Homo sapiens: one gene and its partners. The protein of the gene in region 4 purifies or fractionates together with the protein of the main gene of each other region. This does not show direct contact. Each region holds a gene or a part of one and is shown on either strand. Other genes may lie near its edges. The genes, in order: EPC2, EPC1, MBTD1 and PLAC1.

Region 1 (7,195 bases), on a different chromosome or scaffold from region 4:
CTGTAGTCCCAACTACTTGAGAGGCTGAGGCAGGAGAATCACTTGAACCCGGGAGGCGAAGGTTGCAGTGAGCTGAGATCGCGCCACTGCACTCCAGCCTGGCGACAGAGCTAGACTCGGTAATAAATTAAAAAAAAAAAAAAAAAAAAAAAAAAAGTCTGCAAGGCGCGGCCAGGCGCAGTGGCTCACACCTGTAATCCCAGAAATTTGGGAGGCCGAGGCGGGTGATCACCTGAGGTCAGGAGTCTGAGACCAGCCTGGCCAATATGGTGAAACCCCGACTCTACTAAAAATACAAAAATTAGCTGGGCGAGGTAGTGGGCGCCTATAATCTCAGCTGCTCGGGAGGCTGAGGCAGGAAAATCACCTGAACCTGGTAGGCGGAGGTTGCAGTGAGCCGAGATCGCGCCATTGCAATCAAGCCTGGGCGACAAGAGCTAAACTCCATCTCAAAAAACAAATAAACAAAAAATTGCAACACGAGTTAAGCACTTTTATTTTTAATGAAGCATGAAAAAATTACTCTAAGTTATCTTACTAAATTAAAATACCAAAACATATGTGGCATACTAAGGACCACGTATGTTGGTGATTGCAAAAAGTAATATACCTTCCAGGAGTTAACTGTTCACTCTAGAACAGATTTCCTTTTTTTTGTTGTTGGGGGGGACGGAGTCTCGCTCTGTCCCCCAGGCTGGAGTGCAGTGGCACGATCTCTGCTCACTGCAACCTCTTTCTCCCGGGTTCAAGCAATTCTTCTGCCTCAGCCTCCCGAGTAGCTGGTATTACAGGCGCGCACCACCAGGCCCGGCTAATTTTTGTATTTTTAGTGGAGACGGAGTTTCACCATACTGGCCAGGCTGGTCTCGAACTCCTGACCTCATGATCCGCCCACCTCGGCCTTCCAAAGTGCTGGGATTACAGGCGTGACCCACCGTGCCCGGCCTAGAACAGATTTGACTCAAGTTCTAAAATAATAGGATCAAAGTAATTACACACAATACTGGTACTTTTAAGGCCATCTTTCTTTGGATCAAGACCCACAAAATAGCAAAAATATCCAAAGTTGTGCTTATTAGGGTTCAATGTAATTAACTATTGTATATAATATGATTTTATTTTAATTTTCCTTCCCATGGAAAACTGAGTCGTTAGAAACAAATTAAAAAAAAAAGTTCTCACATACAAAAAAAAAAGTTCTCACAGCTCTAAACCTTAGGGATAAATGCTGGGTTTTGATTATAAACATATTTATATATATGCACACACAAATATATATGTGTATGTGCGTGTATATATATCTATTACATATTTGTGTGTGTACACACACAGTTAAGTTCATCCCGATGCTACGGCCATATGCATTTTCTACTGAAAATGTAAGACTTTCAAGTAACTATACATCAAAGAGAAATGTGATTAAATAAGAGCAAAGTAGTATTAACAGGGTAACATAATGAGGTCAGAACTCAACCAGCCAATCGAAGGCATAAAAGCATTTCCTGCAATATTAATAGTCAAAAGAGAAAACCAATCACTGAAACCTCGAGCTTCCTTTTGACAGTCACTGAAGCAAGAGAACCAATCCACACACACCCGAGGTTGACAATAAGGCGGGACTGTAGGTTCATTGAAGAAATTCTTGAGGGTGCAGTTACTATGAACTTCGCACGCAAGTAACACCACTCGAGTCATAAACACTCTCTGTCAAGCCAGATGAAATCCAACCGTCTGCAAAATTTAACCCATCGGAGGAAAAGCAGCAATTTTCCCAAAAGGTGCTGTATTATCAAAATTACAACTGCCAATTTAGATGCACTAGGTCCTCAACTTCTAAGGACCACCTCGCAATGACAATTCTCGAGGACAACGCAACGCCGGCGGCTCGCTTCCGGGCATCCCCGGCTCCTCTCTAACGTTGCGCACGGAGCACGGCCGTCCAGGCGGAGCAGGCAGAGCCCGTCCGCCCCGCGCCCGGCTCGGGTCGGCAGAACTGGCCGGCGGGCGGCCCTCGGACGCTACGACCCGCTCGGTAGTCGTGGCCCCCGCCCTCCCCCGCCGCAGTGCTGCACCGCCTCATCCCGCTGCACCTTCGCGGGCGGGGGAGCCAGGATGATTACATTGCTGGGAGGAAGATGTTTGTTTTGAAAGCACCCTTCCACAGTCATTTCAAAGAGAACTCAATACAAAGCCAAAGTTAAAAGTGGAAAAAATAATAATCTTGCCTAGCCAAATAATACCACGCCATTAATTAGCCCCGCGCCTGAGAGAGGGAGGTGGAAAGGTAAACAGAGACCGTACGCCAAGAGCGGCCAGCGCATCCCCTGCGCCATTCCCGGCCGCCGCTTACGGCAAGGCCCCCTTACGGCAGCGTAAGCAGCGCTGCGAGCTAATCACAACACTGGGACGCAACAACATGGCGGCCGCGGGCGGGCGCTACGCCGGCCGAGAGGGTTTACGCTACTCCGCCGGCGTAGAGTCCCGTGCGTTAGAGCGGCAGCGGCGCCCTCCAGCGAGCGTAAAGCGCTCTGTGAATGGCGAGGCCCGACTGACAAAGGGGAGGGGGGAGGAGGGAAGGGGGGGTAATAAACACTCGAGTCCCTACCGATTCCTCCTCCTTCTCCATCCCGGTGGGCATCTGGGGCACGGCCCGGTTGATGGAGACGCAGTCGTTGAGATCAGGCATGTCCTTGCCGCGGTAGATAGGCAGCGGCTTGGCGGCGTCCAGCGCCCGCGCTCGGAAGGAGAGTTTACTCATTGTCTCCCCGCCTTACAGGAACAGCCCGGGCGGCGGCGGCGGGGCGGGCGGGGAGGGGGGGAGGACTCCCGCCGCCTCCTCCACCTCCTTCCTCAGTGCAGCGCGGCCGGCCCGCTCCTCCTCCTCCTCACTGCCCCCGGCCACAGCATGGGCGCCCACCCCGCCCGAAAACAGCCCCCCGCGCCCGCGGCCGCCTCCACACACTAGATCCGCCGCTCGCCCGCCCGATCCGCTCCCTGCGCCATGGCCAACATGGCGGACATTACCACAGCGGCGGCGAGCGATCCCGGCAGCCCGCGCGAGAGCGCGCCCCCGTCGCGGGAACGCGCCTCGCCCTCTCCCTCCCTCCCTCCTTCCTCTCCCTTCCCCTCCCTCGCCTGCCCACCCACTCTCTCCGCGGCGCTGCCGGCCCGCGGGAGCGTGCTCGGTCTCGGTCCGCTCCGGGGAGAGGGGGCGGGGGCGGCGCCCCTCCGCTCGCTGGCCGGTGCTTTCGCTGTGTGGCAGGTGCCAGGTGCGCAAGTTCGCCCGCGCCCGGGAGCGTGCGCCTCTCCCGCCGCCGCCCGGTCACCCCTCTCGCTGGGTGTCCCGGAGGAAGGCGCCGGGCAAAGACGGCTGCGCCGAGCAGCGCGTGTGTGCAGAAGTCCGGGAGCGGGAAGGGAAAATGTCGACCCGGACCCCACCAGCCATCACCCAAGCCTGTACTTGGACAGCGCTATCCCCAAGGCGCCCTGTGCGCAAGCTAATTCGCATCCTCCGAGGCGCACATCCCCGAGAGGTGCAAGAGGTCTCTCCCATCAGTCCCATCAGTCCGTTCGGAGGACTGGACCGCGCTGCTGGTGCCAGCCCTCTTCTACGCCCTCCCCTCCGTACCTGTCCGAAAGAGCTCTCCAAGGTGCAGCAGCGCGTTCATCCTCGCTTTGCAGTGAGGGTTCATGGTTTGAGGCTGCCAGATGCAACAAGTGAACTTAGGTTCCCTGTCACCCAAACTTCGGTACAGCTGTTTAGTGGATGGTAGGTATTTTTCTGAGTTCAAAAATAGTAGCTTTCCTAAAAGTTCAGCTTCTAAAAATTTAGCCAAGGCAGCACACATTTGCGAAGTAGCAGATGTGTGTCAAATGTGGGGTGCTGTGGAAGACTCGAAGAAATCTGAGAAAAGGTTCCTGCCTCAGAGAGCTTTCACCTTAATGGGATGCCAGGATGGCTGGAAAGATGAGTAACAGAGACGTAAATAGTTGAAGAAAATGACAGCTGGAAAGATAAGTGACAACCGAAAAAAAAGTGTAAATATTTTAAGAAAACAATACAAGAGATGACACAGGCAGTAAGTAGCACATGATTAATTACCAAACGAGATCTAGGCAATAATTGTGAGAGTTCAGAGAAAGGAAAGGAGGCATGACTGCAGCCTAAACTGGTTAGAGAAAGTTCTCAAGAGGAGGGAAAATCAAGGTGACTCAAATAAGTACTAGCTATTGTTGACATCAACCTGGTTTAGCCAAGAGGCTCTTGGTTAGTCTTTAAGCATTACACATTTCTCACAAAACCGTACAAAGAGAGTTTTTAACACATTTTACCATTTTCTAATAATCGATCATACTCTAACTCAGAGAAAGTCAGATGATTTCCTAAAGACCAACAGTGAAAAAATTGATTCCTACTGTCATTTCTATGTGACAATAAAACTATATCTCTTCCTCTATTACGTCCTTCTTCCCCTCCTCCACTTCCTCCCCTCCCCCTTTTTCCTCCTGTTCCTCTTCCCCTTTTCTCTCTGCAGTCTCCTCCTTTGAAGGCAGAATGGTGGATATAGTCTTCATGGTAGTGTCCAAATAGTCTAACCAGTCTGTCGCAGCAAAACTCCGAGTATTGTTTAGTGGGGCTTGAGTGTTTTTCATCCACTTTGTTGTTGGAAGCAATGGAGTTGCTGTGACTCATTTCTTGTAAGCAGTACCTTCCTCAAGCTTATGGGCATGTCCTGCTCTCTAAGTGCTACCCCTGGAACAGTTCCAATCCTCTGGAAGCAAGAACAAGAAGTTCTTGGGAGGGGGTCAGCACTGGGTTCAAGCCTGAAAGGGAAGAAAAAAGCAATAGTTGAAGAAATGAGTCATCCAGAGCTTTCATCTGGATGCCCAGCCCTCCTCAGGTTCAGAAAGGATAGCTTTCTTCTAGTCCCTATGTTTAGTTTTACTGTTTCTCTCAGAAAAGGAAATATCAAGTATGTGTAATATACCATCCATTGTAGTAACATGTTATATATATTATCTCAACTAGTTGAATTCCACTTAATTCTTATTATAATTTTATGAAAAAATATAATTTTACCAATAAGAAAACTGAGCATCAGATAATTTGCCAAATTTCAATTCCAACAACTTGCAGAACTGGGCTCAAATTCAGGTCTGACCTGACTCCAAAACTCTGGTTTTCTCAGTGGTGCTACCCTGCTATCCAAGCTCTTCAGCTTATTGACCAGTCAGCATTCTAAAGCTGCTAATTCAAAATTAGTTACTAAGACCTTCCAACCAACGGCCAAGGGAGCGCATAAGCCAGAGCCTAAAGTTGCAGTAGACCAAGGAGGGCAGGAACAACATCTGTCTGTCAATCACTGTATCCCCAGTTCCATGCCTCACATATGGCAGGCATCTAAAGTATATTTGTTGACTGATATTCCATGAAGAAATTCACTGATACTGACCCCATGCCACTCTAGTTTATAGTTCACATACCTCACTGGCCTGTCACCTGACCTAGCTATTGCTGCCAATATTTGTTCTTACTGTGGCCTACCCTGTTGTCCAGCTTTGTACCTTTGTGCATAGAGATTTTAGAACCAATTAATGTTATTCAAAAACACCTTTTTGAAACCTGGAATTTATAGGAAGGGATTTTTGCTGTTGTGGTTGTTTCTTTGTTGTTCTTTTACTTTGACCATGTAAAAGATTTCTTCCCCAAATCTCCATTTTCTTCTCACCCTGTAGGCAATGATTATAGAGCTGGGAATAAAACCATTTAAGGCAAATAACACAATATACTTTTCAACGGAGACACAGCCTGTGTTTTCTTGGCTTCCAATTCAGTGCCCAAACCGGAATGCCACTGTTCACTTTTGGAAAGTAACTTTTATTTGTATATAAATATTACTTTTCATAAAGTTTATTTCTGATTGATTTGTTGAATACTCATATAATTGTTAGTGCTAAAAGCAAAAAATATCTTCTTATAAAATAAAAAATTCTCTCATGAAATATTTTTATCAAGACCTGCCTCAAATGGGTGTGCAGCCTAATAGCCTATTTTAATTTCCACATACAATGCGCTAAGTATAGTCATTCTAAAATCAGTCCACTTCAGATATGCTCTAGACCAATTCCAAATGACATGCATTTAGCCCAGCAAGCATAATATATAAGCACCCAAGAATTAAAACCAGTTTAAAGCCATATCAAAATAAAATCACTGTCTAAATGTAGTCTAAATTAGAATAAATGTCAAATAACTGTTAGAATTAGGATTACATTCCAGTGTCCATCTCCCAGTACTATAATCAAGGCAGGCAGCTTCCAAATAATGGACAAATTACTTTTTGAAAGGAATCTTAAAACTAGTAAACACAGTTGCTATTCAACTATTTCAGAGTTTTGCAAATGTCACGTTCTTTCTAATTGGCTCCTGGTTTCAGCAAAACCATTTGAAAGTTAATTGGGTTAGTATGTGAACTGCATCTCCACCCCTCCCCCTTATGTTCCCAGGAATGAGCCTAGTACTAATAAAGCTTCGTTGTTTTCCATATGTAATCTGAATGTGGGGTCTGCATTCATTACAATCAACTGGAATCAGTTCTGTGGTTCCAGTGCCCTTTTCTGAGGCAGCTCTGCATCTTTGAGACATAGGGACAGAGACTACACTGAGAGGTGACCTGCCAAACATCTACTTCTACCTCTGCATTTGCCACCGTGGGAATAGCAGATGGTAAATAAAAATTTGTGACTGTGGCTCAGTTTCTTAGCAGCATCGCTCCTCTCAGACCTGGTTGGAATCACAGGGTGCCACCTTGTGTATAAGCTGACGATTTACTTCCCAGCTCCACAAAGGATCCAAATAGACTCCAAAATAATCAGCCTGAAAGCTCTGCATTTTGGTAACTAAAAAAAAAAGAAACAGATTTGAAAACACACAGCTCCAGAGGGTCCACAACACCCAATTTTGAATTGCACTGACAGCCTGTCTCATTTGTTGCCCCACCCGGACCGTAAAACACAACCAGTGCTCCACATTTGGAATAGATTGACGCTGCTCACTCAGGCTTTTGGATGGGGATAAGAGAAATAAGTAAAGCTCTTGTGATGAAGCTAACAAATCTGACTTGGACAGTTATGTGTGTCCAAACAGCAAGCAAGCTATGTAGATGTAATTTCAGGATTTTTTTTTTCTTTCTTT
Region 2 (7,027 bases), on a different chromosome or scaffold from region 4:
GTTTGGGAAAACCGTAGTTTTCCCAAAAAACCATAATGTCATAAACTACATAAAATGTAACATGAATATTTAGCGTATTTACATAACCGTGGTATTTGCCGTGATCTTTTTCTTTCCAACAAATACAATTTTTGCCACTACTTTACCTTACCTATTGCCTACGTATCAAATTCATACTTCTCCCAACCTTTGCCATCATCTGCAATACATGTTTCGAACATGCTGTGTTCCATCAGCTCAGTTACTGTTGCCTGTATATTTTATCCTGCATTTCCCCTATTTAATGATTTCATATCTTTATCCTTTAAAACTGTTCAAAAGTCACCATTTCAGAAAGCTTACATTGTTCAGCCCACAAATCCTTACTACTCTTTATTTGTATAACCCCTCACTCAGCATTATGGCTTTGTTTTCTACTATGTTAACAGTTTTCTGTAGTTTGCTTTCTGTGTATACGAAGACATTTTCATTATTATTTGTCCTATATTTATTATTTGTTGAGAATAAGGATTAGACAATCCCCTTTAAAAAAAAATTCTCTTCTAGAATTTTCATAGAAAATTAAGAAAATGGGAGGAGCCAGCAGTAAATACACTAATTGCAGTTGTAAGACTTCAGAAGTTGGAGAACTTCTGTTCTCTCCTTTTAATTGAAACAGAATCATTTGTGTGATTATGTTTAGATTGTAGGACAAATTTATGCTTTCATGGAGGCCAACTTCTCTAGACTTTACACTATAAGATGGCCAAACATAGAGTGTTGTGTCTCTTATGAATATGAATGCCCTCATTATAGCAATAAACTTCTTTTTAAAATTTCCCCCAAAACTGCAAATTTGTTGAACATGGTTTCTGGTGTATAATTAATTCATGTCTTTGTTGCAGCAAGATAAAGCCGATCTTATCCGACCGAAACGGAAATATGAAAAGAAGCCCAAAGTCTTACCATCGTCTGCCGCTGCTACTCCCCAACAGACGAGTCCTGCTGCACTGCCAGTCTTCAATGCTAAAGATCTGAATCAGTATGACTTTCCCAGCTCAGACGAAGAACCTCTCTCCCAGGTACAAATACAATTCTCTATGAACATTGAGGAGGGATGTAGGAAGTCACGTATCTGACCTACTTTCTTTATTTCATTTAAAGGTTTTGTCTGGCTCTTCGGAAGCTGAGGAAGACAATGATCCTGATGGTCCTTTTGCTTTCCGTAGGAAAGCAGGCTGTCAGTACTATGCTGTAAGTTTCAGAGTGTCTTTGTAAATAACAAACTATTTACCTTTAACTGACAAAATTAAATAATTTGGATTTTTTTTTTTAAGCCTCACTTAGACCAAACTGGCAACTGGCCTTGGACTAGTCCTAAAGATGGAGGATTAGGGGATGTGCGATATAGATACTGCTTAACTACTCTCACCGTACCCCAAAGGTGTATTGGATTTGCACGAAGACGGGTTGGGCGCGGTGGAAGGTAAGGTATTTCTGTATTCCTAGCAGAAGGATATTTTAGGCATTAGGGTGATTGAATCTAACTTTTAAAGTCAGGTAATCCCTCTGAACAACTCATTAGTTCCTATTTGCTATTCTTAACTGATCTGTTGACTAAAATATTTTTGTTGCTGTGCTGCCTGGTTCTTACACATCCATAGTTTTTGACATAACTCTATTGGGTCCCTAGTGGACCTGCTTTTCTCCCCAAGGTGGAAAACCTCAGATAAATTATCAAGGGGTAGAATTGTGAGAAAGGGCAACAGATGAAGACAAGTGTAAATCCTGATTGCACACAGTGTATTAAGTTAAAGAAACTGCAAAAAAGTTGTTTCACACTAGCTAGTATAATGGGTTTAACCTGACAGTGAAAAGGATCCATGCATAACCTGATCTTGACATCCCAGTTTGTTAGGATCTAATTGTTCTTCCTTTGTTTAAACCTTGTAGAATTCCTTCCTTCATACTCTAAATGCCTTTATGCGAGTTGCTTGTATGGGGACAGGAAACAAATAGCAAAACACATAAACTCAAGGAATGGAGAGACGTTAATGTATAATGTGCGGGGAAAATTAAAAGGGAAAGCAAATAATAGTATCAAGGTGCTTTTTCAGGAAGAAACCCAAGCGTATATTTATGATAAACTAATGGCTTATACATATATTTTTTTCATCTTCAACTCTTAATTGCAGAGGGTTTTTTTTTATTATTTAAACATTGGTTAAGAATTATCTAGGCACTAAAATACATTTTATTTAGTCCGTTTTTTTCCATCACTGCTGACATCAGGAGCAGTGAAAATTCTCTACGTTAGCTATATTTTATTCTATTACTAACATTAATCAATGTTATTATTTTGACTTGGAGCCATTTATAATGTTTATATAAATAACATAAGAGGCCAGGCATGGTGGCTCACACCTGTAATCCCAGCACTTTGGGAGGCCAAGGTGGGTGGATCACTTGAGGTCAAGAGTTTGAGACCAGCCTGGCCAACATGGGGAAACACTGTCTCCACTAAAAACACAAAAATTAGCTGGGCATGGTGGCAGGCGCCTGTAATCTCAGCTACTCGGGAGGCTGAGGCAGGAGAATCACTTGAACCCTGGGGCGGAGGTTGCAGTGAGCCAAGATCGCACCATTGCACTCCAGTCTGGGTGACAGAGTAAAACTCCATCTCTCTCAATCAATCAGTCAATCAATCAATAACATAAGAATATATCCTCTAGAGTAGTGGATCTCAAATATTTTGTCTATAAGAAATGTTAATGGTATACTATGTTTTTTGTTGCTTTTCTTCTCTCTTCTCCCTTTCCCCCCAAAAGGAATGAAGTTTTTGCTTAAATATAGAATAAATGTGTTCGCAACATTTTATAAAGCATTCATTTTGGTGCTTTGTAATGGAAGTGAAAATCTTTAGTTGAAAAACAATTTGTTAAAAGAACTTTTATTAGAAATTGAGGTTGTAGCCTATAAAAACCAAACACTAAAATAATCAACTTTAAAGCTTTTAAATATTCAGTATGAGTTGGCCTTTTGGCAGTTGGGGGTAAAAAGAAAAAGCTTTAATATATAATCTTTGAATAGCTATTTTAAATAACTGTTTCTTGTCTGATTTTTTAATAGGGTCTTACTGGACAGAGCTCATTCAGACTATGACAGTGTGTTTCACCATCTGGATTTGGAAATGCTTTCCTCACCACAACATTCTCCAGTCAATCAGTTTGCCAATACCTCAGAAACAAATACCTCGGACAAATCTTTCTCTAAAGACCTCAGTCAGATACTAGTCAATATCAAATCATGTAGATGGCGGCATTTTAGGCCTCGGACACCATCCCTACATGACAGTGACAATGATGAACTCTCCTGTAGAAAATTATATAGGAGTATAAACCGAACAGGAACAGCACAACCTGGGACCCAGACATGCAGTACCTCTACGCAAAGTAAAAGTAGCAGTGGTTCAGCACACTTTGGTATGTTGACTGTTAATGATGTACGTTTCTATAGAAATGTCAGGTCCAACCATTTCCCATTTGTTCGACTATGTGGTCTGTTACATTTATGGCTTAAAGTCCTTTTCTCTTAAACAGTTAAAAAAAAAATCTTGGTCTAAGTATTTATTTGAATCCTGTTGCTATAGGAGTTTGTATGTGTGTGTCTTCATTTAAACATACCTGCATACAAAGATGGTTTATTTCTATTTAATATGTGACATTTGTTTCCTGGATATAGTCCGTGAACCACAAGATTTATCATATTTTTCAATAATATGAGAAGAAAATGGGCCGTAAATTGTTAACCATTTTATGTTCAGATATTTCTCTAGTTTTTACCTAGTTTGCTTTAACATAGAGACCAGCAAGTGAATATATATGCATAACCTTATATGTTGACACAATAATTCAGAATAATTTGTTAAAGATAAACTAATTTTTCAGAGAAGAACATTTAAAGGGTTAATATTTTTGAAACGTTTTCAGATAATATCTATTTGATTATTGTGGCTTCTATTTGAAATGTGTCTAAAATAAATGCTGTTTATTTAAAATATTCCTATAATCTTAGCTGTCTGTTTTAAAGCATAAGTTTGTGTTATTTGAAGCCTATATATTGTAGAAATTCACCATTGAATTATGTTACTACTGATTTTTGTAAAGGTAATCTGAGGACTATGAAGATATTTATCATTCCCCTAATTCACCCTGTAGGGTTATAGTTAAGTTGCTTCATAAATATGAACATTTGCTCTGATTCTTAAAGACCTCCAGAAAATGTTCCGTAAACTAATTTACTTGGTGGTTAAAAAAAAGTACAGTTGACCCCTGAACAACATGAGGGTTAGGGGCACCCCCCAATTGCAGTCCAAAATTCATGTATAACTTTTGACTCCCCAAAAACTTGACTAATAGTCTGCTCCTGACCAGAATTACCAATAACATAAACAGTCCATTAGTCCATTAACATAAACAGTCCAAACATACATGTTTTGTATGTTATATGTATTCTGTACTTCATTCTTAAAATAAGCTAGGAAAAAGAACATGTTATTAAGAAATTTATAGAGCCAGGCATGGTGGCTCATGCCTGTAATCCCAGCACTTTGGGAGGCTAAAGTGGGCAGATTGCTTGAGCCCAGGAGTTCAGGACCAGCCTGGGCAACATGGTGAAACCTCATCTCTACAAAAAATGCAGAAATTCACTGGGTGTGGTGGTGAGCGCCTGTAGTCTCAGCTACTCAGGAGACTGAGGTGGTAGGAGCCCAGAAGGTCAAGGCTGCAGTGAGCCAAGATCATGCCACTGCATTCCAGGCTTCACAGCAAAGCAAAACCCTGTTTCAAAAAAAAAAGAAATTCATAAAGGAGAGAAAATACATTTACTAATCATTAAGTGTAAGTGGATCATCATAAAGGTCTTTATCCTTGTCATCTTCACATTGAGGGGGAGGAGGGGTTGGTCTTGTCATCTGAGAGGTGACAGAGGCAGAAGATAATTTACAAATAAGTAGACCCAGGCAGTTCAAACCCATGTTATTCAAGGGTCAGCTGTACTTCTATGAAATGGAAGTCTTTCAGCTCATGAGAAAAATAATCACAATTCAGAAATCAGCTGGAAGATAAAGCTATTTTAGGGACTAACAGCTTATTTATAATCCCATTAATGTTACTGTCTTTATCACCAAAAGCCAGTTTCTCTCTACTTTTATAGTCTTAAGAATCAAAATAAAGAACTTTTCAATAAAGACTTACTTATAGTGTTAGTATAGAGGTTTTAACAGTATAAACCTGTCATAGGTTACCCTGATAATTAAGCTTTCTAAGCTGTAAAAATTCTTTAAGACTTCTCAGAAAATAGGCATGTTCCATCAATCTCCATCTTCTCCACCCCTTAAATAGAGAAGTTGAAGTGTATAACTATCCTAAATATTTAAGGATTTTATAATGCTCTTTTTTTATGAAAAATGTTTTGCTATACTGCTTTAGGCATATTAATAACAGTTGTAAAAATTGTTTGATTTGTGTTTGCCCAAAGAACATTAAAAGATGAGCATTACCAAAAGCTTAGCTGAAAAGAAATCATTAGTAACCTTGTAATTTTTCTTCTTTATCATTTCTTTCCTCCATATATGCGATACAACTATTTATTTATTTATTTAAGACAGGATCTTTCTCTGTCACCCAGACTGGAGTATAGTGGCACAGTCATGGCTCACTGCAGCCTCAACTTCCCAGGCTCAGTGATCCCCCAACCTCAGCCTCCTGGGTAGCTAGGACTGCAGGCGTATGCCACCATGACTGGCTAATTTTTTGTAAGAGATAGGGTCTATGTTGCCCAGGCTAGTCTTGAACTCCTGGCCTCAAGTGATCCTCCTGCCTTGGCCTCCCAAAGTGCTAGGGTTACAGGGGTGAGCCACTGCACCCAGCCTCAATACTACTTTTTAAAAATGAGTTTATCTATTTTTTTTCCTGTTGTCTTAATTATTTTCAATTTCTCCTTAAATTTTGCTAGATCTTCTAATACTTAGAGGATAGATACCTACAGACTACTGTAGGGTAACACTGTTCATTTATATTTGTGAATATTCCAGAGACCTAAAGCTTTTCTCTGCATACTTTATAAAGTATATTACAATGCAGCCATATCATAAGTGCATTTCACTTAATCCAACTCCAGGCCCCTGAAGAAAAAAAAAACAAAATTTAGGCCAAGTGTGGTGGCTCATGCCTGTAATCCCAGTACTTTGGGAGGCCGAGGCGGGCAGATCACCTGAGGTCAGGAGTTCCACACTAGCCTGGCTAATATGGCGAAACCTGGTCTCTACTAAAAAATACAAAAATTAGCTGGGCATGATGGCAGGCGCCTGTAATCCCAGCTACTCAGGAAGCTGAGGCAGGGAGAATGGCTTGAACCTGGGAGTCAGAGGTTGCAGTGAGCCGAGATTGTGCCATTGCATTCCAGCCTGGGCGACAGAGTGAGACTCCATCTCAAAAAAAAAAAAGAGAAAATGTAGCAGCTCAAATGTTATACAGAATTCTAAATACAATTTACTGAAAGAATATATTCTCCAGAGTGAGCCTGGAGTAGGGGAAGTTGAATGTGTTGGTCCTCTTACGGCGTGAGTGCCCGCATTGCCACTTTATTCATAGGTTAAGCATCTTACCTCATTCAGTAGTAATTGTGATTTTAAAGATAATTTTTAATTTTCATACAGCATGGCCCCCACATACAAACCAGACTACTTCCTCTGGCACTTAACCAAAGAAACTCTGATGTAGTCTGATGCCAGCAGAAAAACTGGCAGTGTTGGGCTAATTAAAACAGAAGAGTCAGGCCAGGCACAGTGGGTCATGCCTGTAATCCCAGCACTTTGGGAGGCCGAGGCAGGCAGATTGCCTGAGATCACCTCAGATCAGGAGTTCAAGACCAGCCTGGCCAACATGGCAAAACACGTTTCTATTAAAAATACAAAAATTAGCCAGACGTGGTGGTGGGTGCCTGTAATTCCTGCTACTCGGGAGGCTGAGGCAGGAAAACCACTTGA
Region 3 (7,027 bases), on a different chromosome or scaffold from region 4:
TTGGGACTACAGGCATGAGCCACCATGCCTGGCTAATTAAACACTTTTTTTTTTTTTTTTGTAGAGACTGGGTCTCACTATGTTGCCCAGGCTGGTCTAGAAGTCCTGGGCTCAAGTAATCCACCCACCTAAGCCTCCCAAAGTGCTGGGATTACAGGTGTGAGCCACCACACATGGCCTTAGTTTTTCCTTTTATTTTCCATCCCATTATATTTTAGTTGCATTCTTTCTGCTTTGTCAGAATGTATAATGTTTATGTACTATTCTCTAGGTCCCTACTATTGGTTTTAATCTTAGTTCAAAAAGATATCTGAAATACTTATTGTCACAGTCTTTTTGTAGGAAATGTCCCAAATATCTTTTAGATGAAAGTCATCCTTTTCGAGTGTCCTCAGGAGGGGTAAACGAGTACAGTATTCCCTGAGTTCCTGCATGTTCAAACTGTTGTTCTGCAGCCCTAATACCTGGACAACAGTTAGCTGGATATAAAATCCTTGGCTAGCAGTCACTTTCCTCATGCTGCTCCACTGTCTTGCTTTGTTATGTTGCTTTTGAGAAATCTGACACTGGTCTAATTCTCTTGCCTCTATGTCACGTCTTTGCCTGGAGACCCTGAGAATTCTTTGCATCTTTACAGTCATACAGCTTTACTAGGAAATATCTTTGAGTGTGCCTTCTGGTATGAACTTCTGTGGTATAGATTCAGATCTCTTTTCACTTCCAGAAAGTTTTCTTGGATTATAGTTTTAAATATTTTCTCTTCTTGAAGGACACCAATTATATACAGTAGACTTTGGATCCATCTCCCATTTCAACTTGGTCAATTTTCAAAACAAAAATCTCATCTCAATTATCCTGTTTTCCTGCTTTTCTTCAAGACTTTTTATTAAATTTGAATTTGAAATGTGGGAATGTTAAAACTTCATTATTGGTTATGATTTTATCTTCTATTTTTCTGTTTAATCTACTTTGTGTTCATTTCTTAATGCTTTTTGTTCTTTGTATTTGTTTCAGAATATTTCTTAATTTTATTTTTCAAATCTCCAAACATTGGTTTGAGGATGTTTAATTTCACTTGGAGCATTGTGTCAATTTTTTCCTGCTTTTTTTGATGGGGGTAGATTTTCATCAGTTGAAATGCTGATTCACATTTCCTGTTTGTTTTTTCTTACAGTTCTGTATGGATGTGGCCTGCTCTTTTCTATTTCTGTTCATTTCATAGGCAGAGCTCCTACTTCAAGAACACCCTCTTCTCTAAGTTCAGTTTTTTTCTTTTCCTGAAGAATTTTTTCTTCTTTCTTCTTCTTCACTGCCATGTTTCCAAGTCTTCACTGACATGTCTCCAAGTCTTCATGTTTCCCTTATGAGGCAATGCTTATAATTTAAAGCTACCAATTCTGGTACTGCTTACCTTTAAGCTCTTCTCCATACATAGAGCTGTGAACTATCAAACTCCAAACCTATGATCAATGTTTTGGAGCTTTTTTCAGATTTTCTCTTTCTGAGAGTGGATCTTTGTACCTTGTCTAAAGCTTTCACACTCCCATACCTCTTTCAGTAAATTTGTCAAGCCTTCCCTCTCTCACTCTTAACACCTAGAGGAATGATCATAAGGAGCAGTTGGAATTTGGTTTATTTCTCTACCTATAAGAATCTACAAATCTCTATTTATAGGCAGAGAAATAAACTAAATTTGTGAGTTGAACTCTTAAACACATTTCGTCCTATAGGAGTTTATTTGTAAATTCTACAATAACCTAATATTGGACTTGCTCTGTCATTCAAGCTGCAGTGCAGTGGCATGATCTTGGCTTATTGTAACCTCTGCCTCCCAGGTTCAAGCGATTCTCATGCCTCAGTCTCCCGAGAAGCTGGGATTACAGTGTGTGCCACAACACCTGGGTAATTTTTGTATTTTTGGTAGAGACAGGGTTTCGCCATGTTGGCCAGGCTGATCTCGAACTCCTGGCCTCAAGTGATTGGCCCACTTCGGCCTCCCAAAGTGTTGGGATTACAGGCATGAGCCACTGCACCCAACCATGTTGGACTATTTTTGTTACTGATCTGATTTGGTTATTATTATAATATTTGTAATATGCTTAGTATGTGTCAGGCATATTCAGCACTTAAATCTGTAGCAGCGCATTTAAACCTTATGAGTGTCACTCTCATTTTACAGGAGGAAGCAGTGGCCCAAATAGGCTAAGCAACTTGCCCAAGATCATATAACCACCATGAACACTAATAATATGAATCATGGGACTATCTTAAAACGTTTTAAATTTTAACCTTCTTTCTCCCCCCTCCCCAATACTGGTTCTGTCAGCTAGCCTCTGTAAGCATACAAAACAAGCATCAAATAAATATGTTTCAGGTAACGTGCCTTCATGAACATTTTGCTCTTCAAAATAAAACCGAGGCCAGGTGCAGTGGCTCACACCTGTAATCCTAGCACTTTGGGAGACCAAGGGTGGGTGGATTACTTGAGGAGTAATCCACCAGGAGTTCCAGACCAGCCTGGCCAATATGGTAAAACCCCATCTCTACTAAAAATACAAAAATCAGCCATGTGTGGTGGTGGCACCTGTAGTCCAGCTACCAGGGAGGCTGAGGCAGAAGAATCACTTGAACCCGGGAGGCGAAGGTTGCAGAGAGCCAAGATTGAGCTACTGCACTCCAGTCTGGGCGACAGAGTGAGACTCTGTCTCAAAAAAAAACAAAACAACAAAACAAAACCCCAAAAAACTGCAAATCATATTAGATGACTAAGGTCTTGAATGTAGGGAGATGGAATGATTGTAGGTAGGTAAACCTTGCTTTATATTTGGGTGTATGTTCTAACTCCCTGTCCACTATAAAGTCACTAATGTCTAAAATTCATATACTAAATAAATAATATAAGCCTAAGCTTTAGAATTAGAGAGATAGATACTAGATGAGAAAGCTAAAAGAATGAAAGCAGTTGTCTCATCAGAGCTGAATTGGGACAAGGACCATTTTTTTTGGAATACTTTTAGCATTGTTTAATTATTGTACTATCAAGTGCATGTATTACTTTGATAAAAATAAAAGCTAATTTATATGAAGTATACAGTACATTAAAAAATTAAGTTGGTATATATTGAGAGATTGATGATATCTGGTATCAGTAAATACATGTGGGAAAAACAGTGCTCATATACACTTGGTAGGAAGGTAACCTTACACTATCTTTCCGGAAGGCAATTTGACATTACATATGAAAACTTAAAATGGCTATGCCTTTTGACTAGGTAATTCCATTTTTAGGAATCTGTCCTTCAGAAATACTCATACATAATACATACAAGGACACAAGAACCTATGTAGAAGGATGTTTGCTAATGTAATAATAATGAAAAACTGGAGACAAACTTACAATCAGCAGGGGAATCATGAGCAACAGGTAAAATACTGAGTGGAAAAAATAAATCACAATATATAGTATAATAAAATATATCACAATATGACTCACTTTTTATTCAAAGAGACAATATACACTGGCATATACACAGATCAATATATGTATGTTTGTTTTTATGTGCACTAAGAAAGACCTTAGGAGTAGCTAAACTTTTAGCAGGGTAGAAGTGGCATGGGAAGATGAATCTAACTTTTCAATATTTTTCTTTTTTAAAACATTATAGGTGTACTTCTATAATAAAAAATAAAAGGTTTTTATAGTGACAAAATTAAAGAAGAGATCACAAATCACAACAGAACTTCATTGTCCTACTGTAACTGTCACTTAGGTAAACCATCCTCCCTATGAAATCTACAAGGGAATTAAAAAGCATAGTCATTAACTTATTGGTATAACCAAACAAAAGTTCCAACAAAACTAAACATCTCTGGGAGAAATGACAGAAAACACTTGAAATCTTAAATGCAGGTGTCAATAAACATGGAGCCAAGTAATATTAATAATAGTGTAATTTCAATATGAGTAAACTCACCAGATATGAATAAACTCATCAGAAGTCAACCAATTCTTCATTATCCAAACCCACTGGGAGCAGTGGCTCACATAATTTTCAAATTTTTATATTTAGCTATGGAGCAAATATTTTCTAGAATCTTAAATTTGAATGTTGTATGCATGAGATCACAAAGTAGTAAACAGAGATTAATACATACTCTACAATGACTGAACTTGGTAGGAGCTCAAGAGCTATTTAGCTCCTGCAGGCCTCTTTTTCATTCTATTATACTATGAGGATGAAAGCACATTCTGGTATAGTGATAAAACTCATCAGTGTAAAGAGAAATGCCTTCTTTCTTTCTAAGCTTACTGTTACGAGGAACATAAATGGTAAGGATTTGGGATTACTGAGTTTTTATTTCCCACAAATTCAATGTGCAAGCAAGAATAAATTCATGTCAATGATACAATCAAGAGGAAACCAAAAGCAATAATATTCTGAATAACCCATCTAAAGAAATGGAAAAGTACCCAGGAGAATGATAGGAGAGGACAATATTCTACATAGCAATATTTTAAGATTTAAAGCAACAGTGAACAAAAGGAAGTGATTCTTTGATCTACAAGAAATACAAATTTCTACCTCTTTGGGTTCAACTTCTAGACCTATCACTGTTATGACTTCGGATGTAACAATTACTTGGGTCTCAGTTTCCCTCTCTTCTAAATAAGAAAAACATCACTTACCACACAGGAAGGATGTATGATAAAATAAAAAAATTCACATGAATAGGCTTTCAGTTCTTCCGAAGAAAGCTATGAATCCTTAAGTACAAACCTGGAAAGCTAATTAAAAATAAGATGACCATATCAAAATTAAGTCTGAAACATGCAGTGGCCTAGAGATTCCCTGAGATCATTATCAGCTATCAATTCTACCCCAATAATAGAATTCATACTCAAGCTGGGTCTGTAGGGCGAATGTGGTCTGAATGATCAAACAAGATCATTTATTAGTATGTTAACATAGAGACGGGCCAGGCGCAGTGGCTCACGCCTGTAATCCCAGCACTTTGGGAGGCTGAGGCGGGCAGATCACAAGGTCAGGAGTTTGACACCAGCCTGGCCAATATGATGAAACCCCACCTCTACTAAAAATACAAAAATGAACTGGGTGTGGTGGCATTTGCCTGTAGTCCCAGCCACTCGGGAGGCTGAGGCAGAAGAATCACTTGAACCCGGGAGGCGGAGACTGCAGTGAGCCGAGCTCATGCCACTGCACTCCAGCCTGGGCAACAGAGCAAGACTCCATCTCAAAAAAAAAAAGAAAAGAGAAAGTAAATTCAACAGCTTATTCAGTATCATATTGATCTGATATAACCTAAAAACACTTGATCTGAAATGATAACATTCTCTTGGTGTTTACCTTTAAAAAATATATTTGGAACTGGTTGCTCAGAAGATATAAAATCACTGAACAATAGTAACTACAGGGTGTTAATAATTAAACAAAGATGGGTTAAACACATACAGATACACAAGGGGGCTACTTCTCTGGTGTATAAAATAATCTCTAGCAAATTTTAAAGCTTAGAAGTCTTAAAGTAATAGATGATGATAACCTTTTTTTTTTCCTTTTTTTTTTTTTGAGACGGAGTCTCACTCTGTCGCCCAGGCTGGAGTCCAGTGGCACAATCATGGCTCACTTCAACCTGGGTCTCCCACCAGACTCAAGCAATCCTCCCACCTCTGCCCCCGAGTAGCTGGGACTACAGGGGTGTGCCACCACACCTAATTTTTGTAATTTTTTTTTGTAGAGACAGGGTTTCGCCATGTTGCCCAGGCTGATCTTGAACTCCTGGGTTCAAGCAATCTGCCTGTCCTGGGCTCTCAAAGTATTGGGATTACAGGCGTTAGCCAACACACCTGGTTAATATTAACCAATATTTATTGAACGATATATACAAATCACTATGCTTAGCACCAGAAATACAAAGAAGTATTAGACTTAACATTCCTGTCCTACAATTAAGACTGCAAACGGTGGCCAAATAATTGGGCCACAACGTTGAACAAACTAATGAGTATTATATACAACCAGTTTTAAAAGACTAGTAGTAGGAATTAAACATAGTGAAAAAGGAAAAAGAAGGAAAGCCTGGGAACACATCTTAACATTTTATCTTATGACTTGTCTCATCTTTTATAGCAGCTTACTTTTTTTAAACAGCGGGCATAACATCTGAGTGGAGGTTTACAGAAACTACAGGAGGCAGGGCTGATGTTCACCCTGTATTTCAGATGAGGAAAGTGAAGCTTTCAAAGAGGTTACACAACTCACCTAAGATCGCAGTTCAGAGAGGTAGCTTGCTGACTTTGTCCAGAGCTCACTTCTACTAGACTAAATTCTAAATTATCAGTGCTAAAGTGAGAACTCGAAGGGACCTCAGAAATCTCCTAATGGAGTGTTTCCCTAACCAACCTGATAAACTTTCTGGGGTATACATTAAAAACACATTCCCAGGACCCACTGCAGACCTACTAAATAAGTTATAGGAGAGAAGTTTAGTATTTTAACAAGAGCCTCCAAGAAGTGATTATAATGATTAGTTATGCTTAGAAAACAGTGTTCTATGTGTGTATGTCCAGTATGCCAGACATTTGGCTACTTAAATTTACATTGCCTAAAACAGCAAAATTAAAAATTGAGTTCTTCAATTTTTAGTTCCACTAGTTACATTTCAAGTGCTCAACAACCACATGTGGCTAGTGGCTACCGTAACTGGACAGCAAAGATATAGGAAATTTCCATCATTGCAGAAACTTCTATTGGATTATGCTGATACTAGACTAACCCTTCAACTGCCATGAGAAAATGGAGGCACAGGATCTTGTCCAACAAGGGCCATGGAGCTACTCAATGGCAGAATTGTGACATCAACCTCACTGCCAGCACCCCTCTTATTGTATCACTTCATCCTATCTCATATTCAGGGTTTGTTCAAATGGGAATTATTTCCTTTTCACCTTTTATTGTGGGTTCCAGCAAAGCAAGAAGAGAAATCCTAAATTTGCAGGTAAAAAAAT
Region 4 (7,424 bases):
CCACAATATATTATCACAGCTAAGAAAATAAACAATAATTCCTAATATAATCTAATTTCCAATCCATATTCAAATTGCCCCAATATTCCCCAAATGTCTTTCATAGCTTTGTAAAATCCAGAATCCAAAACCAAGGTTTGTGTATTGCATCTACTTATGTCCCTTTAGTGTCGTTTAATCTAGAACAGTGCATGCTCCTAATTTTTGTGTGTGACACTGAATTTTTGAAGAGTTCAGGCTAGTTGTCTTGTAGAATATCTCATATTCTGAATTTGTCTGTTTTCTTATGGTATGTGTGTTTTTAAAAAAATAAAAAGATTTAATAGCAATAATAATAAAAGAAACCAGGCTCTGTTTTATATAAACAGCAACCTTAAAATGAGTATGCTATCCCAATATGCCTAGTAGCAGCATTGCCCAGTCTTCTGGTTCCCATATCAGATTCTTTAATCATCCCGCTGTCCTTCTTTCTCCTTATTCAGCCAGTTCCCAAGTCTGTGAATTTGCCCTTTGACATGCCTAATGGCTTAATGCCTTCTCTAGTCCCACCATGCCCCTACCCTGGATCAGGCCTTCAATACCTCAGCCCTAAAGTATTGCAACTGCCTCCTAATTGACCCCTCTAGTGCCAGAATCGTCCCCTGAACACCTGCTGCACTGTGAATATAGAAAACACACTGCCTTTTCTACGTCACTCCTATCTGGAAAACCATCAATGGCTATTTCCTATTTCTCATCTTTCTTCAGTCAGAGCCAGCTTTGAATGTAGCCTTCAACACCAGACAGAGACCGATCTCTACCTAAATCCTAGTGCTGCCATTACTTGCTGAGTGGCCTTAGAGAAGTCACTAGGCTTATCTGGCCTTCCATTTTCTTATCTGTAAATTGGAAATAACAGTTGTGCCTACCTCTCAAGTTTGACCAGCATTTGCCCACAGAGCTCCCACCTTTTCTAGGGGTCACTCCAAGCCTCATCCTTTCTTTAAGTCTCAGCTGAAGCCTTGCCTCCTCCAGGAGGACTTCTTATTCACAGCAGCACCCCCTCTCTGAATTTCCATAGCACTTGTGGTCTATAGGGAAGAATTTAGCAGATACTAGTCTTATTGCCCACTCATATTTACATTTTCCTCTTTTTTTCTTTTCTTTTTTGAGATGCGGTTGTGCTCTGTCCCCCAGGCTGGAGTGCAGTGGAGTGATGATGGCTCACTGCAGCTTCGATCTCCTGGGCTCAAGTGATCCTCCCATCTCAGCCTCCTGAGTAGCTAGGACCACAGGTGTGCCCCACCAAGCCTGGATATTTTATTTTTAGTTTTTGTAGAGACGGTGTCTCCCTACATTGCTCAGGCTGGTCTTGAACTCCTGGGCTTAAGTAATCCTCCTGCCTCAGCTTCCCGAAGTGTTGGGATTACAGAAATGAACCACCATGCCCAGCCTTTTTTTTTTCTTTTTTAACATTTGTAGACATTTTCATCTTATCTGCTCATTTGGATGGCCAGGGCCCCTTGAGAGCAGGAGTAGATCTACCCATTGTTTCTCCTAGAGCCTGTTAGAGAGCTAGTGCTATGCTGAGCATCCAGCAGCTCCGAGCTGTCACTTGACCGTGAGAAGATGCTTTGTTCATCTTTAGAGTCCTCCTTTAACTCTGATTGTCTCTAACTCCAGTGAGACAGGAAGGACCAAGGGTTGCGACCATCATCCAAATAATCATAGTAATTCCACCTATTTATAGAGCACCAATTATGTATCCAGCACCTTGAACATACGGATGCTCCTTGACTTATGATGGGGCTATGTCCCGATAAAACCATCACAAATCAAAAATATCATAAATCAAAAATGCATTCAGTACCCTAATAAGCCCGTCATAATGTCAAAAAATTGCAAGCCAAACCATTGCAAGTTGGGGACTGTCTGTATATTCTATTTGATGCCAATTAAGCAGATAAAGAAACAGAAGATCAGAGAGGATAAGCAACTTGCCCAGTGTCACTCAGCTATTAACTGCTGAAGCTGGAACTTGAACCCAAGTTTGTTTAAATACAGAGCCCATATTTGTTCCCTGCTGCCTCTGTAGTAACAGTGATCAGTATATTGATAGAAAGAAGGACAAGTTATTAGAGCTGCTGGGATTAGAATGCAATTTATTCTACTACTCTTTTTATAAATGAGAATGTCCACCCTGAGAGTAACATTGTGCTACCAGTGGTGGTGTAGTTTCTGTGAATCTGTTTCCTCTCAGAATCAAGGTCCAGAGACATGCCTCTCTGTGGTCATGGGAGAGAATGAGACAAAGCAGCTCACAATGGATTTAGGGTCCCTGTCTCTTTCTCAAAGAGTCTGAAACTGATCATCTGGGTTAATAGGAACACACAGCTAAAAGCAATGATAAAGATAAGTAGGAGAGTAAAGGAAGAGAGAATGATGAGATGGCAAGTAAACAGGGGAAAGAATAGGCAGTTAGACTGGGAAATATGTGTAGGGGAATCCCACATGAATCCCTAAAAAATACCCTGTGCAGTTGGGGAGTGGTGCATGTGTGAGTGTGTGTGTGTGTGAATGTATGATATTGATTTTAGATCTATGTGTGTGTGTGTTCAATCTTTAGATTTAAATAAAGAACAGACCAAATTCAGAGTCTAACTGCCTCCTTCTCAGCAGCCACTTCATCACCCCCATGTCACATTTCCCAGCTGGAGGGCAATAATTGCATGGCCAGATCTGGCCCCATCTGGGAAACACCAGGGTCTTCCTGAATCGTCATACACCATGCTGGCTGCCAAGGCATAAGGTGACCTAAGCGAAGCTTTCACACAGGCCATGTGCACAGTCATAAAATCTCGAGAGAATGTGGCAACAGAGACAGACTTGACTTACCTGCCAAATTTCCAAAGGGAAGAAGGAACTTGCTGTGTCTGTATTTGCCCCCAGGATTGGAAAAATGTATCTCAGTCACTGGAACTGAAGAGGGGTGGCCTTTACCTTCATAGGAGAGTCACTCTTTATACAAATCCTTCTGATGGTCTGATATATGTGTGTGTCTTTATATAAATAGAGCTATATACTGACTTTGCCAGATTGCATCAGCTACCTGCTTAACATTTTACTCTGGTGCTTTCGAAACAACACTCTGAAAGTCAGAATAATATGTGGCCTCTGCAGCATTTCCCAGTTTGGCATTTTGTTTACAGAGTAAAAGAAAGCTACTCACCCTTGAGATCATCAGTGATTGAATGATACCTACTGTCATGTGTTAGAAGCCATGTCACCTTGACAGAACTCATTCACAGGAAGAAGGGCGGGGAGGAGGGTTACAACATGGTGGTGGTAATTCTTAGAGAAATCAAGCAGTGAGCTGGCCACTTGTAGTGCTTGCTGTTGCCAAGGCAGTCTTTCGTGTCTTTACTCAGTAAACACATATCAGGCATAGGGAATACAAAAACAAATAATATATGTCCCTTCCCACCAGGAATCCAGCCTTTGTCCCCAGTTCTCTCAAGGAGCCCACTGCCAAATGAGAGGTAAGCCTCTTCAGGAAGAATGCTCAGGGAGAATGAGAACACATGGACCCAGGGAGGGGAAAACACACACTGTGGCCTCTTGGGGGGCTGTGGCGGGTGGAAAGCATCAGGAAAAATAGCTGATGCATGCTGGGCTTAATATGTAGGTGATGGGTTGATCGATGCAGCAAACCACCATGGCACATGTTTACTTACATAACAAACCTGCACATCCTGCACATGTACCCCGGAACTTAAAATTTAAAAAAAAAAGAAAGAATTTTTAGGGATTACTGGTCAGTATGGTTGCCTGAGCTGTTGCAGGAAGCTCCTCCCCTGCTCAAAACACATTGTTTTTTCAAAAATTTAAATATGTTGTAGAGAGCAAAAGCAAAAATAAACATATTCTAGTGCCAGAAATGAAGAGGGAGCTCAAAGCCACAGCAGCAACTACACAGCCCACAGAAGAACCAAAGGTGGTCACATATCCTGGGCGAAGGGTTTGAATGGCAGGGTGGGAACGGGAGTGGAATCTGAGCTCCTATGGAAAGTCAGTAGTGGTAAGTGCTGGCCCATAAGTGGGGATGGGGGAAAAAACACAGTTCAGAAGTGTACTGGCCACTTTGAGCTGAGAGTAGGCAGTCACATAACCCAAAGTACATAAGACTCCAAGGTAAAACAATTCCTGCCAAATAACAGTAATTACACTAGCCAAGTGCTTAATTATGTGCCAGATGCTGTCCTAAGTGCTTGGCTTATATTATTTAGGTTGATGCAAAAGTAATTGCGGTTTTTGCCGTTGAAATTAGTGGCAAAAACTGCAATCATTTTCCACCAACCTAATAACTCATTTGTAGAACAGCCCTGATTTCCAGATACTGAAACTGAAGAACAGAGAGATTAAATAACTTACCTAAGGTCACACAGGTACTAAGTGGCAGAGCCAGAATTCAAACCCAGGTGGTATATAGCACATGAATCTGTGTTTGTATCTATGACTCAGGATGAATGCATAGCTAGAACTTACTAAGTCCGTGAGGAAATAAACCACCATAAGACCAGTGCAACCAATGGAAGAATTCATACCTTAAGAACCACAGCTAATAAGAAAATCTAAAAGGGATTTTAAAATAAGTATGCTGAAAATGTTCAAAGATTTTTTTTTTTTTTTTGAGACAGAGTATTGCTCTATCACCCAGGCTGGAGTGCAATGGTGCGATCTCAGCTCACTGCAACCTCCGCCTCCTGGGTTCAAGCGATTCTTCTGCCTCAGCCTCCTGAGTAGCTGGGATTACAGGTGCCTGCCATCATGCCCAGCTAATTTTTGTATTTTTTAGTAGAGATAGGATTTCATCATGTTGGCCAGGCTGGTCTTGAACTCCTGACCTCGGGTGATCCACCCGCCTCAGCCTCCCAAAGTGCTGGGATTACAGGCGTGAGCCACCATGCCTGGCCGAAAGAGGTTTTAAAAAGGAATAGAAACTAGAAGGCAAGAATAGAATAGTTTGAAAAATACAGGTGAATGCAAAAAAGAACCGAAATATAGGCATTGCAATGGAAAAAAGAACACTCAACAGAGGGATTAAACAACAAACTAAACACAGTTGATGAGAGAATGAGTGAACCAGAAGATAGAGCTGAGGAAATTATCCAGATGCAGAGCAGAGGAATAAAGAGATGAAAAATAAGAAAGGAAAGCTAAGCTACATGGAGGACAGAATGAGAAGTTCCAGTAAGTGTCCAGTTGGAGTTCCAGAAGGAGGGAAGAGAGAGAATGAGAAGAGGCAGTATTTGAAAGATAACAGAGGATATTTTCTGGAGTTGTGGGAAACCATGAGTCCTCTAACTTCCTGTCTTAGTATCAGCCTCTGGAGCCTGCAGGTCTGTAGCTAGTCCTCATGAGAGGAGTCAGCCTCTTAGCTCTGCCACTGCTGTGATAATAGCTCAAGAGCACCAAGTTGTTTATATAAACCAATGTTTCTCAATGTTGTTTTAAAAAAATTATCATCCCCTTCATCCCAGGAGCCTTTTTAGACGTCTTTTTTTTTTCTAATTTCTCCCCCCATTAAATTTTAATACCAAAGAGATGCTGTGTATCTGTGTATGTATTGTATGTGTACCTGTGCTTTGGGCAAGCATCCTATAGGATGTCCCCATCACCTGGAAGGAAGGGTGTTCTACTTCTTTTTGCCTCTTCCTTGGCATGGCTTTCTACTCATTCTTCAGGTGTCAGGTTAAATGCCACATCCTGAATCTCCCAGAATAGATCAGGCCGCTATGTTATATGCTCTCCTTTAAGGTACTAATGTAAAGTATAAGTAAATAATGATCTGCGTAATTACTTATTCAGCAGGGGCCATGTCTCTCTCGCGTTCTGCTGTGTCCCTGGGGCTCAGCACACTGGCGGGCAGTTGGTAGATGCTCAAATAGCTGAATAAATGAATGAGCACCATGAGTGGCATTACCTGAGCAGATGAGAGGAAAATCACAGCCCTGGGAGGAGCCTTGGAAAGCTATTTTAACTCTTCCCCAGTTTATGGGCAGAAGTATTGTGTAACTACTTCTGAAAGAGCAAAGTATGTGCTTTTCTTAAAACCACACTACAGTAGTTCCTTTTTCCTTTAAATAGTTTTCATTATTTGGAAGCAAAAGGTGGTCAGGAAGCAGTTGAGAATAGAGACAGACCTCTTTTTGAAAATACGTAAAAATAACATCTAAAATCATTTCCTATTTTAGAAGAGCCAGGGAAACTCCCAGCTTCAAAGAAACCCTGTAGTAAATTCTTTTGTTACAAGGAATAATGGACCAAATTGAGTGAAGATTCTCTTTTTACCTACTCCCCAACAAAAAAAGACAGGTTGAAATTTGTTATGGTCACAATGGTGTGCTCATACCAACTTACAAGAGACAAATTAATTTTGAGAGCTGAGTTGTTAAATTCAGCCATTATTAGAAATTAAATTATATAACCTTGCAATAAAATAAATTATATGAAAAACAAAGCTTGGCTAGGTGTGGTGGCTCATGCCTGTAATCCCAACACTTTAGGAGGCTGAGGTGGGAGGATCACTCAAGCTGAGGAGTTCCAGACCAGCCTGGGCAACATAGGGAGACCATATCTCTACAAAACATAATTTTTAAAAAATTAGCTGGGTGTGGTGCCACACACCTGTGGTCCCAGCTGAGGCAGGAGGATCGTTTGAGCCCAGGAGGTCAAGGCTGCAGTGAGCTATGATCATGCCACTGCACTCCAGCCTGGGTGACAGAATGAGACCCTGTCTCAAAAAACAAAACCAAAAAAACCCACAAAGCTAATACATATGCGAAACTCATCCCTTTCTAATTATTTGACTACACTTTGCTATTATCCATGCTCTTGAGGTTACTTATATCTTTTATATCAGTATACTGGAAATACTATATAATGTTCTGCCACTGGACATCTCTTCCCAACTCCACATTCTGTGACATCAAGTTGTGTAGCCTGAAGTTGGCCATGGTAGGACTATTTATGTCAGGGAAACTAGCAAATGCTACAAAGCAGTGCTTAATCTATTGTTGTGTTGATTGTCTTGACCAAGAGTTGAGAACTTTCCCCACAGTCTGTTTTTGTGTAGCCCACAAGCAAAGGATGATTTTTACATTTTTAAAGGGTTGTAAAAAAAATGACTATGTGGCTACAAAGCCTGAAATGCTTAGCCAGGCGCAGTGGCTCATGCCTGTAATCTCAGCACTTTGGGAAGCTGAAGCAGGTGGATTGCTCGAGCCCAGGAGTTCGAGACTAGCCTGCTCAACATGATAAAACCTCATCTCTACAAAATAATAAAAAGTATCCAGGCATAGTGGTGCACGACTGTAGTCCCAACTACTTGGGAGGCTGAGGCAGGAGAATTGCTTGAACTTGGGAGGCAGAGTTTGCAATGAGCC

Evidence for each region.
Region 1: the proteins of PLAC1 (region 4) and EPC2 purify together in Homo sapiens (affinity purification with mass spectrometry; 3 studies listed by BioGRID and IntAct, with this or other methods). This does not show direct contact.
Region 2: the proteins of PLAC1 (region 4) and EPC1 purify together in Homo sapiens (affinity purification with mass spectrometry; 3 studies listed by BioGRID and IntAct, with this or other methods). This does not show direct contact.
Region 3: the proteins of PLAC1 (region 4) and MBTD1 purify together in Homo sapiens (affinity purification with mass spectrometry; 3 studies listed by BioGRID and IntAct, with this or other methods). This does not show direct contact.

The regions. Positions count from the first base shown.
Region 1 is NC_000002.12:148,640,581-148,647,775, reverse strand, and holds the start of EPC2 (enhancer of polycomb homolog 2), read right to left. Parts: upstream 3,026-7,195; 5' UTR 2,759-3,025; coding exon 2,606-2,758; intron 1-2,605. UniProt on the Homo sapiens protein: May play a role in transcription or DNA repair.
Region 2 is NC_000010.11:32,281,132-32,288,158, reverse strand, and holds part of EPC1 (enhancer of polycomb homolog 1), read left to right. Parts: intron 1-884; coding exon 885-1,061; intron 1,062-1,143; coding exon 1,144-1,233; intron 1,234-1,316; coding exon 1,317-1,465; intron 1,466-3,108; coding exon 3,109-3,461; coding exon of another isoform or gene 3,462-3,574; exon of another isoform or gene 3,575-4,038; intron 4,039-7,027. UniProt on the Homo sapiens protein: Component of the NuA4 histone acetyltransferase (HAT) complex, a multiprotein complex involved in transcriptional activation of select genes principally by acetylation of nucleosomal histones H4 and H2A.
Region 3 is NC_000017.11:51,250,026-51,257,052, forward strand, and holds part of MBTD1 (MBT domain-containing protein 1), read right to left. Parts: intron 1-7,027. UniProt on the Homo sapiens protein: Chromatin reader component of the NuA4 histone acetyltransferase complex, a multiprotein complex involved in transcriptional activation of select genes principally by acetylation of nucleosomal histones H4 and H2A.
Region 4 is NC_000023.11:134,655,454-134,662,877, forward strand, and holds the start of PLAC1 (placenta-specific protein 1 precursor), read right to left. Parts: upstream 3,019-7,424; 5' UTR 2,875-3,018; intron 1-2,874. UniProt on the Homo sapiens protein: May play a role in placental development.